2 linked regions of the Homo sapiens genome follow. The protein of the gene in region 2 purifies or fractionates together with the protein of the main gene of each other region. This does not show direct contact. Each region holds a gene or a part of one and is shown on either strand. Other genes may lie near its edges.

Evidence for each region. The genes of interacting proteins can lie anywhere in the genome.
Region 1: the proteins of CIMIP5 (region 2) and ZYG11B purify together in Homo sapiens (affinity purification with mass spectrometry; one large-scale study listed by BioGRID and IntAct). This does not show direct contact.

What each region holds. Positions count from the first base shown.
Region 1 is NC_000001.11:52,812,882-52,818,321, forward strand, and holds part of ZYG11B (protein zyg-11 homolog B), read left to right. Parts: intron 1-654; coding exon 655-852; intron 853-978; coding exon 979-1,031; intron 1,032-3,650; coding exon 3,651-3,748; intron 3,749-5,440. UniProt on the Homo sapiens protein: Serves as substrate adapter subunit in the E3 ubiquitin ligase complex ZYG11B-CUL2-Elongin BC. Acts to target substrates bearing N-terminal degrons for proteasomal degradation with the first four residues of substrates being the key recognition elements.
Region 2 is NC_000002.12:11,138,300-11,143,739, reverse strand, and holds part of CIMIP5 (ciliary microtubule inner protein 5), read right to left. Parts: intron 3,231-5,440; coding exon 3,191-3,230; intron 1-3,190.

The DNA.
Region 1 (5,440 bases), on a different chromosome or scaffold from region 2:
ACACCTGGCTAATTTTTGTGTATTTAGTAGAGACGGGCTTTCTCCATGTTGGCCAGGCTTGTCTTAAACTCCCAACCTCTCAGGTATGAGCCACCACACCCAGCCCTATTTATTTGTTTTGTTAGAGTGGCGTCTTATCAGACTTTACCCTACGGTTCATATATAATTTAGCCCTACTACTATCAAATACTTTGCTTATTATAAGGTCTCTTGAGTCTGGCTAGTGGAAATGTGAACTACTCCTATCCCTGTGTGACTTTAGGATTTATTCATATACTACTTTCTGGTAGTTCTTTCCCTAGCCTCCTGGAGTTTCACCCTTGTCATTACTGAGCCAGAGATTTGGGGTACAGGTCATGTGTGCTCTGTCTCTGAGTGTGGAGCTTTGTCCTTTCCAGCACTCTGTTCTACAGAGTTTTGCTGCTTGACCACCCTAAACTATGATCTCTGTTTCAACAAAACTGCTACTTTGTCTTTGGCTTACTCTTACCTTCATTGCAGTCTGTAAACTGCCCTCATTTGAATACTTTCTCTCAGGGAAATACTTTTCTTTCACCTTCCTGAATTGCCTGTTATCCAGGGCCTAAAAACAGTTATCTTAACCATTTACTATACATATTACATTAATTTTTATATTTTCTTTTTTTTTTCCAGAACAATATAGCTGAAGTACAAGAATTACATTCTGAATTAATGTGGAAAGATTTTATAGACCACATCAGTAGTCTCCTACACAGTGTGGAAGTGGAAGTCAGTTACTTTGCAGCTGGAATTATTGCCCATTTAATATCCAGAGGTGAACAAGCTTGGACATTGAGTCGTAGCCAGAGGAATTCTCTGCTGGATGATTTGGTAGGGTCATTCCATACCAACAAAAGACATTCATAGTGGTTAAACTATCAAAGCCTCATAATGTAGTAAATAATGCAGTGCTAAATAAATATTGTAATCCTTTCTTGTGTGTCTTTTGTCTTCCAGCATTCAGCTATTTTGAAATGGCCAACTCCAGAGTGTGAGATGGTAGCATACAGGTAATTAGTATCATAATTAACAGTAAACCAGCAACCTAGTCTAGAGATCATTCCTAAGAGTCATTCCTACTAGATGCATAATTTTTCCCTCAGGCACCTCAATATTGGTTATTTATTTATTTATTTTGAGACAGAGTTTCACTCCGTCGCCATGGCTGGAGTGCAGTGCATGATCTTGGCTCACTGCAACCTCCACCTCCCAGGTTGAAGCAATTCCCCTGCCTCAGCCTCCCGAGTAGCTGGGATTATAGGCGCCCACGACCACGCCCCGCTAATTTTTGTATTTTTAGTAGAGACGAGGTTTCACCATGTTGGCCAGGCTGGTCTTGAACTCCTGACCTCAGGTGATCTGCCTGCCTGGGCCCCCCTAAGTGCTGGGATTACAGGCGTGAGCCACCACACCCAGCCAAAAGTATTGGCTTTAAAAGAAGCAAAGTATTTTGACTTTTTTCTACCACCTATCACTCTTCATGTTTCCTTCATTTCACATTTGTTGAAGACAAGTGCTAGGAATTTGTTCTATGCTCTTGAAATACAAAAATGAACAAAGACATGGTGTCTGCACACAAGAATTTTATATCCTTGTGAGGGAGAGTGAATGTGGATCAGATAAAATACCGTTATGCCAAATGTCCATAGAATGTTATGAAATTAAAGGTGAAGCCCAGTGGGGTAGCACATACCTGTAGTCCTGGGAGGATCACTTGAGCCCAGGAGTTTGAGGCTGCAGTGAGTTATGATTGCATCACTGCATTCCAGCCTGAGTGACAGAGCAAGACTCCAAATGTAAATACACACACACACACACACACACACACACCTTTCAGAGGAAGTGAGTTGTGACCTGAGTGTTGAAAGATAAGGAGAGGCAGGAGATTTTTAGGAAGAAAAAGCATCGTATTAATGTAGGAAGGTCTAAAATAAAATGACACATTGAAGGAATTAGAAGTAGCACCAGATTTGGGCCAGGCATTGTGGCTCATGCCTATAATCCCAGCACTTTGGGAGGCTGAGGTGGGTGGATCACTTCAATCCAGGAGTTCGAGACCAGCTTGGCCAACATGTTGAAACCCCTGTCTCTACTGAAAGAACAAAGTTAGTGGGGCATGGTGGTGCACACCTGTAATTCCAGCTACTTGGGAGGCTGAGGCATGAGAATCGCTTGAACTTGGGAGGTGGAGGTTGCAGTGAGCTGAGATGGCGCCACTGCACTGCAGCCTGGGTGACAGAATGAGACTCTCAAAAAAGGAATAACACTAGATTTGGTTGGGGAAACAGTTTGTAATAATTTATTAAAGGGCATACTGGGCCTGGCATGGTGGCTCACACCTATAATCCCAACACTTTGAGAGACTGAGGTGGTAGTATCACTTGAGTTCAGGAGTTGCAGACTAGCCTAGGCATCATAGTGAGACCTCATCTCTACTAAAAAATAAAAAAACCTGGGCATGATGGCATACACCTGTAGTCCCACCACTTCGGAAGGCCAAGGCAGGTAGATCACTTGAGCTCAGCCTGAGCAACATAGTGAGACCCCGTCTCTACAAAAAATAAAAAATTAGCCAGTTGTGGTGGCACATCCCTGTAGTCCAAGCTGCTTGGGAGGCTAAGGTGGGAGAATCGCTTGAGCCTGGAAGGTTGAGGCTGCAATGAGTTGAGATCGCCTTACTGCACTCCAGCCTGAGCAACAGAGTGAGACCCTGTCTCAAATAAATAAATAAATGTAAAAATAAATAAATAGGCCGGGCATGGTGGCTCATGCCTGTAATCCCAGCACTTTGGGAGGCCGAGGCGGGCAGATCACGAGGTCAGGAGATCGAGACTATCCTGGCTAACGTGGTGAAACCCCGTCTCTACTAAAAATACAAAAAAATTAGCCGGGCGTGGTGGCAGGCGCCTGTAGTCCCAGCTACTTGGGAGGCTGAGGCAGGAGAATGCCGTGAACCCAGGAGGCGGAGGTTGCAGTGAGCTGAGATCGCGCCACTGCACTCCAGCCTGGGCGACAGAGCGAGACTCCGTATCAAAATAAATAAATAAATAAATAACAAAAATTAAGAAGTGCATACTGGATGCCTAACTCTGTTTGTAATTAGATAACTTGATAATTAAATTACTAATTACCTGAAGTATTTAATTTTTATTCAACTTATTTTTTTTGTTTGGTTCATAAATGCTGATGTTGCCAACATTTTTTTTATTTCTCCAACTTATGTTCCACCTATTTTTATTCAGACCAGTAGAAAATAGAAGGGATAATTATACATCTTTTTCATAGTGTTCTACTAGTTAGTTATCACCTAATTTCTCTATTTCTTAGTTTCCAAACCAAGATCTACTTATCTTCAAATGTGTATCTTTAAGACTAAAAAGTGCTTTTGGAAAAATTTTTTCTCTTTCACTACCATGTTCTAATCACCTTCCATCTTCTGTACTGAGTCATGTCTGAATGCAGTCTTCTCTGAAATGGTTAAGACAAAGAAATGATATTCTATAGCTCATTTATATTAGTCTAAATATAATAGGATAAAATTTTGAAAATGAAAAGTTTAGGAATCACTGCTTTAGGAAATTACGCTAAATATGGGATGTAACTTTGATTCTTTTCTTTTGAACCTTTAGGTCCTTTAATCCATTTTTCCCATTACTTGGCTGTTTCACAACACCAGGAGTTCAGCTATGGGCAGTTTGGGCCATGCAACATGTCTGCAGCAAGAATCGTATGTACCAAAAAAAAAGAACTGTGTTTTTTTTCTTTAAGTGAAATTCTCATTTCCCAGGAAAGATATTTCTAAATTGTGTATTAAAGTGATTTTTAAGAACACTGACTTAAAATGTAAGGCCATCTTAGGTTATAAACTTAAGGTATTCTTTTTTTTTTTTTTTTTTTTTTTTTGAGACGAAGTCTCGCTCTTGTTCCCCAGGCTGGAGTACAGTGGCGCGATCTCGGCTCACTGGAACCTCCGCCTCCTGGGTTCAAGCGATTCTCCTGCCTCAGCCTCCCGAGTAGCTGAGATATCAGGCACCTGCCACCATGCCCGGCTAATTTTTGTATTATTATTATTTTTTTTTAGTAGAGACGGGGTTTCACCATGTTGGCCAGGCTGGTCTCAAACTCCTGACCTCAGGTGATCCGCCCGCCTAAGCCTCCCAAAGTGCTGGGATTACAGGCATAAGCCACTGTGCCCGGCCAACTTAAGGTATTCTTTCAGAATGAGCATGGTGTAACTAGACACTGAATAATAGTGGTGAATGAGACACTGTTCTCACCTCAAGGAATTTAAAGATTAGGAGACTACAGTGAGTCCATTTGTTGAGTAAAAGGTCTTAAGTAGATCCACTGTTTATGGTACATTCCGGTGCCCAATTCTCATTCACCCAAAATTCTGTTGTTCAAGATGTCGCTGCCAGCACCCATGGTTTCTGAAGAAGCAAAGTGTTTGAATCAGGTTCTATATTATTCTTTGAAAGCTACGATGTAACTCTTATTTATTTATTTAGAGACAAGGTCTGTCTCTATCACTGGAGCTGGAGTGCAGTGGCATAGTAACAGCTCACTGCAACCTTGACGTCCAGGCTCAGATGATCCTCCTGCCTCAGCTTGTAGCTAGGACTACAAGTGCACGTCACCATACCTGGCTTTTTTTTGTATTTTTTGTAGAGATGGGGTTTCATCATGTTGGCCAGGCTGGTGTCAAACTCCTAGGCTCGAACGATCTGCCTGCCTCTTCCTCCCAAAGTGCTGGCATTACAGGCGTCAGCCATCAAGCGTGGCCTAATTATTTATTAATATAAACTCATTCCACAAATGATTTGACACAAGAAATACACAGAACCACTTTAATAGTAAAGTGTGTATATATATGTGTATATATATATATATATATATATATATATATATATATATTTTTTTTTTTTTTTTTTTTTTTTTTTTTTTTTTTTTTTTGAGATGGAGTCTCACTTTGTCACCCAGGCTGGAGTGCAGTGGTGCGATCTCGGCTCACCACACCCTCCACCTCCCAGGTTCAAGCGATTCTCTTGCCTCAACCTCCAGAGTAGCTGGGACTATAGGCCTGCACCACCACACCTGGCTAATTTTCGTATTTTTAGTAGAGACAGGGTTTCACCATTTTGGCTGGGCTGATCTTGAACCCCTGACCTCAGGTGATCCACCGACCTCGGCCTCCCAAAGTGCTGGGCTTACAGGTGTGAGCCACTGTGCCTGGCCTACTTTTAGTTTTAATTAGAAGTAAGGAAAAATAATTTTTCAAAAATTATAGGGGCCGGGCATAATGGCTCATCCCTATAATCCCAGCATTTTCTGAAGTTGAGGTGAGTGGATCGCTTGAGCCCGGGAGTTTGAGACCAGCCTGGGCAACATGGCGAAACCTAGTTTCTATAAAAGATGTAAA
Region 2 (5,440 bases):
CCCTCCTCTTCCTCCACTTCCCCTTCCCCAGGTGCCTCCCAGATCCCTTAACTTTCATGCTGCGACCTGCAGAGATCAAGGGAAGGATCAGGTCTTATTCCCCTTTCTATCCCCAGGACTAAGATGCCACTTTACATCTGGTGGGAGGTTTTGATTTTTTTTTTTTTTTTTGGTAAATTTGTACTTAAGAGTATAACATTCACACAGAAAACGCACAAGCCATCACTGTCCAGCTTGACAAATGTTCACAAAGTGAAGATGCCCATGTGCCCAACCAGATCAAGGGGTATGATCCCCTCCCCCACCTCCTTTCAGCCCCTCAGCCCCTGTCTCTGCTCCCAAGGCACCCTGACCTTGACCTCTAATGCCACGCATTAGCTTTGCCTGGTTTTGAACTTTACATTAGTGGAATCATGGCTCTTCTGTCTGGCTTCTTTCTCTCAACATTATGTGTGTGAGATTCATTCAGCTTTGGAGTGTGGCTGCCGTTCATTCATTCTCAGTGCTGTACGTTACTCCATGGTGTGAACTGTACTCCATGGTGTGAACTGTACTCCATGGTGTGAACTGTGTGAATATCACACAAGTTATTCACCTGTATCACCACTGATCACACTTGGGTTGATTCTAGTTTGGGGCTTTTATGAGTAGTGCTGTTTTGGCCATATGTGAACGTGCGTTTGGGTAAACTCTGTAACGGATGCATGCATGAATGAATGACTAAATGTAATCTGATGGCCAGGCACCATGGCTCTTGCCTTTAATCCTGGCACTTTGAGAAGCCTTGGCGGAAAGATTCAGACCAGCCTGGGCAACATGGTGAGACCCCGTCTCTACAAAAAAATACAAAAATTAGTTGGGTGTGGGGGCACGTGCATGTAAGCCCCAGCTACTCAGGAGGCTGAGGTGGGAGGATCACTAGAGCCCAGGAGGTTGAGGCTGCAGTGAGCCATGATCATGCTACTTCACTCCAGCCTGGGCAACAGAGTGAGACCGTATCTCAAAAAAAAAAAAAAAAAAAAAAAATCTGACAAGTGGGAAAACATCCTCAGCTCTTCCTGCCCCTGTTTAGGGTTACCTTTCTGCTACCCTGTGTCTAATAGAAATGACATGACCTGTCAAGTAAGGAGATCATGGTTTTCACCTGGCAAAGTCCATGCCGAGGTGGCTCCACCCTTTGGCCATGATGCAGATTTCAGTAGTCAGGTTGCTATCATGTAGCCCTTAGCAGGGAGAGACTCTTACAGGCTGGAAGCCCAGACCAGATGCACAGGTCGGGATATCAGGTCCCATGAGCTGAATTTTCCCTCCAGAATAGACAGCAACAAGTCCAGCAGGTCCACAATGCAGGCATTAAAACTTTCCTCAACCTGGCAGGGTCCAGGTAAGCATGGCCACCCCCTCGAGTGACTTTCCATATTGCTCATCTTCCAGGTTGGTTCTTTGACCATCTTTTTTTTTTTTTTTTTTTTTGAGACTGAATTTTGCTCTTGTTGCCCAGGCTGGAGTGCAATGGCGTGATCTCTGCTCACTGCAACCTCTGCCTCCCAGGTTCAAGCTATTCTCCTGCCTCAGCCTCCCGAGTAGCTGGAATTACAGGCATGCACCAGCACACCCGGCTAATTTTTGTATTTTTAGTAGAGATGGGGTTTCTCCATGTTGGTCAGGCTGGTCTTGAACTCCCAACCTCAGGTGATCCACCTGCCTCGGCCTCCCAAAGTGTTGAGATTACAGGCGTGAGCCACCGCATCCAGCTGATCATCCTTTTTGTAGTGAGATCCATCTTTCCATTCATTCATTCATCCAGCATGAACTGAATGTTCACTCTTTTATGGTCTCTGGGGGATGGGGCAAATGCTAGGGTTGTGATAGGGTGCAGTGATGAATTCATATTCATCTTTTCTCTTTTTAAAAAATAATGTTATTTTTGTAGAGACAGGGTCTCCCTATGTTGCCCAGGCTGGTCTTGAACTCATGGGTCCAGGTGATCCTCCCACCTCAGCCTCCCCAAGTACAGGCATGGGCCACCATTCCTGGCCTCATCCTTTCTCTTAAGGAGTTCACAGCTGGTGAAATTGGGCATTGCAGTATTACATTACATGGAATACCAAAATAACGGGTGAGATATGCTGGTGAATCAAAGGAAGGAGTGATCTGGTCAAGCCTGCCCAGGAAGGTGAGATTCCCTAGAAGAGGGGGCACTAGAGCAGGATCTTGAAGAGTGAATAGGAGTCCATCAGGCTGACCAGGTGGAAGGACATTCCAGCAGGGGACGAGCATGCCCAAAGGCATAGATAAAAGAGTGTTGTGGGGGCTGGGTGTGGTGGCTCATGCCTGTAATCCCAGCACTTTGGGAAGCCGAGGCAGTTGGCTAATTGAGGTCAGGAGTTCGAGACCAGCCTGGCTAACATAGTGAAACCCCCTCTCTACTAAAAATACAAATATTAGCCAGGCATGGTGGTGTGCACCTATAATCTCAGCTACTCAGGAGGCTGAGGCAGGAGAATCACTAGAATCCAGGAGGTGGAGATTGCAGTGAGCCAAGATTGCACCACTGCACTCCAGCCTGGGCGACAGAGCAAGACTCCATCTCAAAAAAAAAAAAAAAAAAAAAAAAAGTGTGTTGTGGGGTCTGTGTGGGGTGGGTAATGAGGCTGGGGAGATAGATGGTTTAGATCACAGGAGGCTTTGTAAGCCACCTGAAAATTTCAGACTTACTGAAGCATTTTAATCAGGGGAGCTACATGGCCAGTTCTGCCGTTTAGGGAAATTAGTCTGGTGGCAATGTGGAGGATGGATTGGAGGTGGTGATACCAGAGTCAGGGAATTTGTTTACAAAGTATTTTTACCCAATCTCATTGTCCTTCTCGGGCACGCCACACAGATATGACTACATATTGCTGCCATCCTCAATCAGGGGAGACATTTCAGCAACAGATGCCTGTCATTTCCAATTGGTTCATCTTAATAAAATTAAGAAACACTGAGGGAAACACATTTCTAAATGCTTCATGTAACTGTTTTCTATCCAACGGACCCTGCATTCCTTGAAACAAGAGTGTATTTGACTCATCGCTGCACATCCAGTATCTGGTGTAGAGTAGATCTTCAATAAATGTTAGTTGAATGATGGAAAGAATGAGTAATATTCAATTGCAAGTATGTTTGGCAGGAACATATTTTACCTTACCATTGGGTCATAGTCTTTCAGGAAACTCCAGTTCTGAATCCTGGAAAGGAAAAACATGTTGGCTGTGTGAGTTCCTTCCAGGACATTTTTACCAATGACTTTCACTGTGTCAAGTCAATGCAACAATGTATCACGTGGAAGAACTAAATAATTTTTTTTTTTTTTTTTTTTTTTTAAGACGGAGGCTCACTCTGTCACCCAGGCTGGAGTGCCGTGGCGCAATCTTGGCTCCCTGCAAGCTCCGCCTCCCGGGTTCACGCCATTCTCCTGCCTCAGCCTCCCGAGTAGCTGGGACTACAGGCACCCGCCACCGCGCCTGGCTAATTTTTTGTATTTTTAGTAGAGATGGGGTTTCACCGTGGTCTCGATCTCCTGACCTTGTGATCCGCCCGCCTCGGCCTCCCAAAGTGCTGGGATTACAGGCGTGAGCCACCACGCCCAGCCTTTTTTTTTTTTTTTTTTTGAGAGGGAGTCTCGCTCTGTCACCTAGGCTGAAGTGCAGTGGCATAATCTCAGCTCACTGCAACCTCTGCCTCCCAGGTTCAAGCAATTCCCCTGTCTCAGCCTCCCAAGTAGCTGGGACTACAGGTGCATGCCACCACACCCGGCTAATTTTTGTATTATTAGTGTAGATGGGGTTTCACCATATTGGTCAGGCTGGTCTTGAATTCCTGACCTCAGGTGGTCCACCCACCTTGGCCTCCCAAAGTGCTGGGATTACAGGCATGAGCCACTGTGCCCAGCCAGAACAAAATAATTTTTAAGTGAAACAAATGCCAAGTGTCAAGCAGGTATTTATGGTGTATCCTACCAAAGGAACAAACATTTCAATTTCCAATGACTTTTCCTAGAACGACAAATATGATGTCACTATGGTGGGGCTGCCTAAGGAAAGCAAAGGCTACCATCTCGCCCTGCCTCTGTGCATTTCAGAAGGCTACAGTAGGCAAGCATTCTCTGAAGAAAAAAGTTTTCACATCCCCAAACCTTTGTAACTTTCCAATGTGAGTGATAGAGGAAGGCTAGGGAGAGGTAGGAAAAGGGAGGGACCATAAGGATAGTATTAGCTTGCACTGGCCATTTAGTTTTATTTGAATCTAATCTTAAAAAGTCAAACAATTCTACAAAACATAATAAAAACAGCCTTCTCTGTCCCCATCCTCACAGCCCCTGAGCCCCACATCCTAGAGTCAAACCTTTGCCAGCCTTTTAGCTGTTTCTTCAGGCCTTTGCATCCATATTTTGAAATAATAGGATTCTACTGCTGTATTATGCCATTCTTGCCTTGCTATAAATAATACCTGAGACTGGGTAATTTATAAAGAAGGTGTAGGACAGGTGCGGTGGCTCACGCCTGTAATCCCAGCACTTTGGGAAGCTAAGGTGGGTGGATCACCTGAGGTCAGGAGTTCGAGACCAGCCTGGCCAACATGGTGAAACCCTGTCTCCACCAAAAATACAAAAATTAGCCGGGCATGGTGGCGGGCGCCTGTAATACCAGCTACTAGGGAGGCTGAGGCAGGAGAATCGCTTGAGCCCAGGAGGTGGAGGTTACAGTGAGCAGAGATCAAGCCACTGCACTCCAGCCTGGGTGACAGAGTGAGACTCTGTCTCAAAAAATAAAAATAAATAAAAATAAAAATAAAAAAAAGAAGGTGTAATTGGCTAACAGTTCCACAGGCTGTACAGGAAGCAGGATGCTGGCATCTGCTTAGCTTCTGGGGTGGTCTCAGGAAACTTACAATCATGGTGGAAGGCAAAGTGGCAGCAGGCAGGTCACATGGCCAGAGCAGGAGCAAAGGAGAGAGAAGGGAAGTGCCACACACTTTAAAAGAACCAGATCTGGTGAGAACTCACTACTGTGAGGACAGTACCATGGGGATGGTATAAACCATTTATGAGAAGCCACCCGCATGATCCAATCGCCTTCCACCGGGCCCCACCTCCAAAACTGGGGATTACTATTCAACATGCGATTTGGGTGGGGACACAGATCCACACCATATCCACTGCTGTTTCTTAATATTTTTTAAAATTTAAACTTATCTATCGACTTTCTATTATGGGAGATGAAGAGTTATCATTCTTACCCCTGCCCTTCCCTTTGTTCTTTCAAAATCATTATAGATCTCAGTTAAATTGATATGTATCGTTTTGATTCTTATGATTATGTAAATGTTATCCCCTGGTGAACTAAGGAGTGCAATATACCCCAATTCTGTTCTTGTACAACCTTGTATTCTTTCTAGA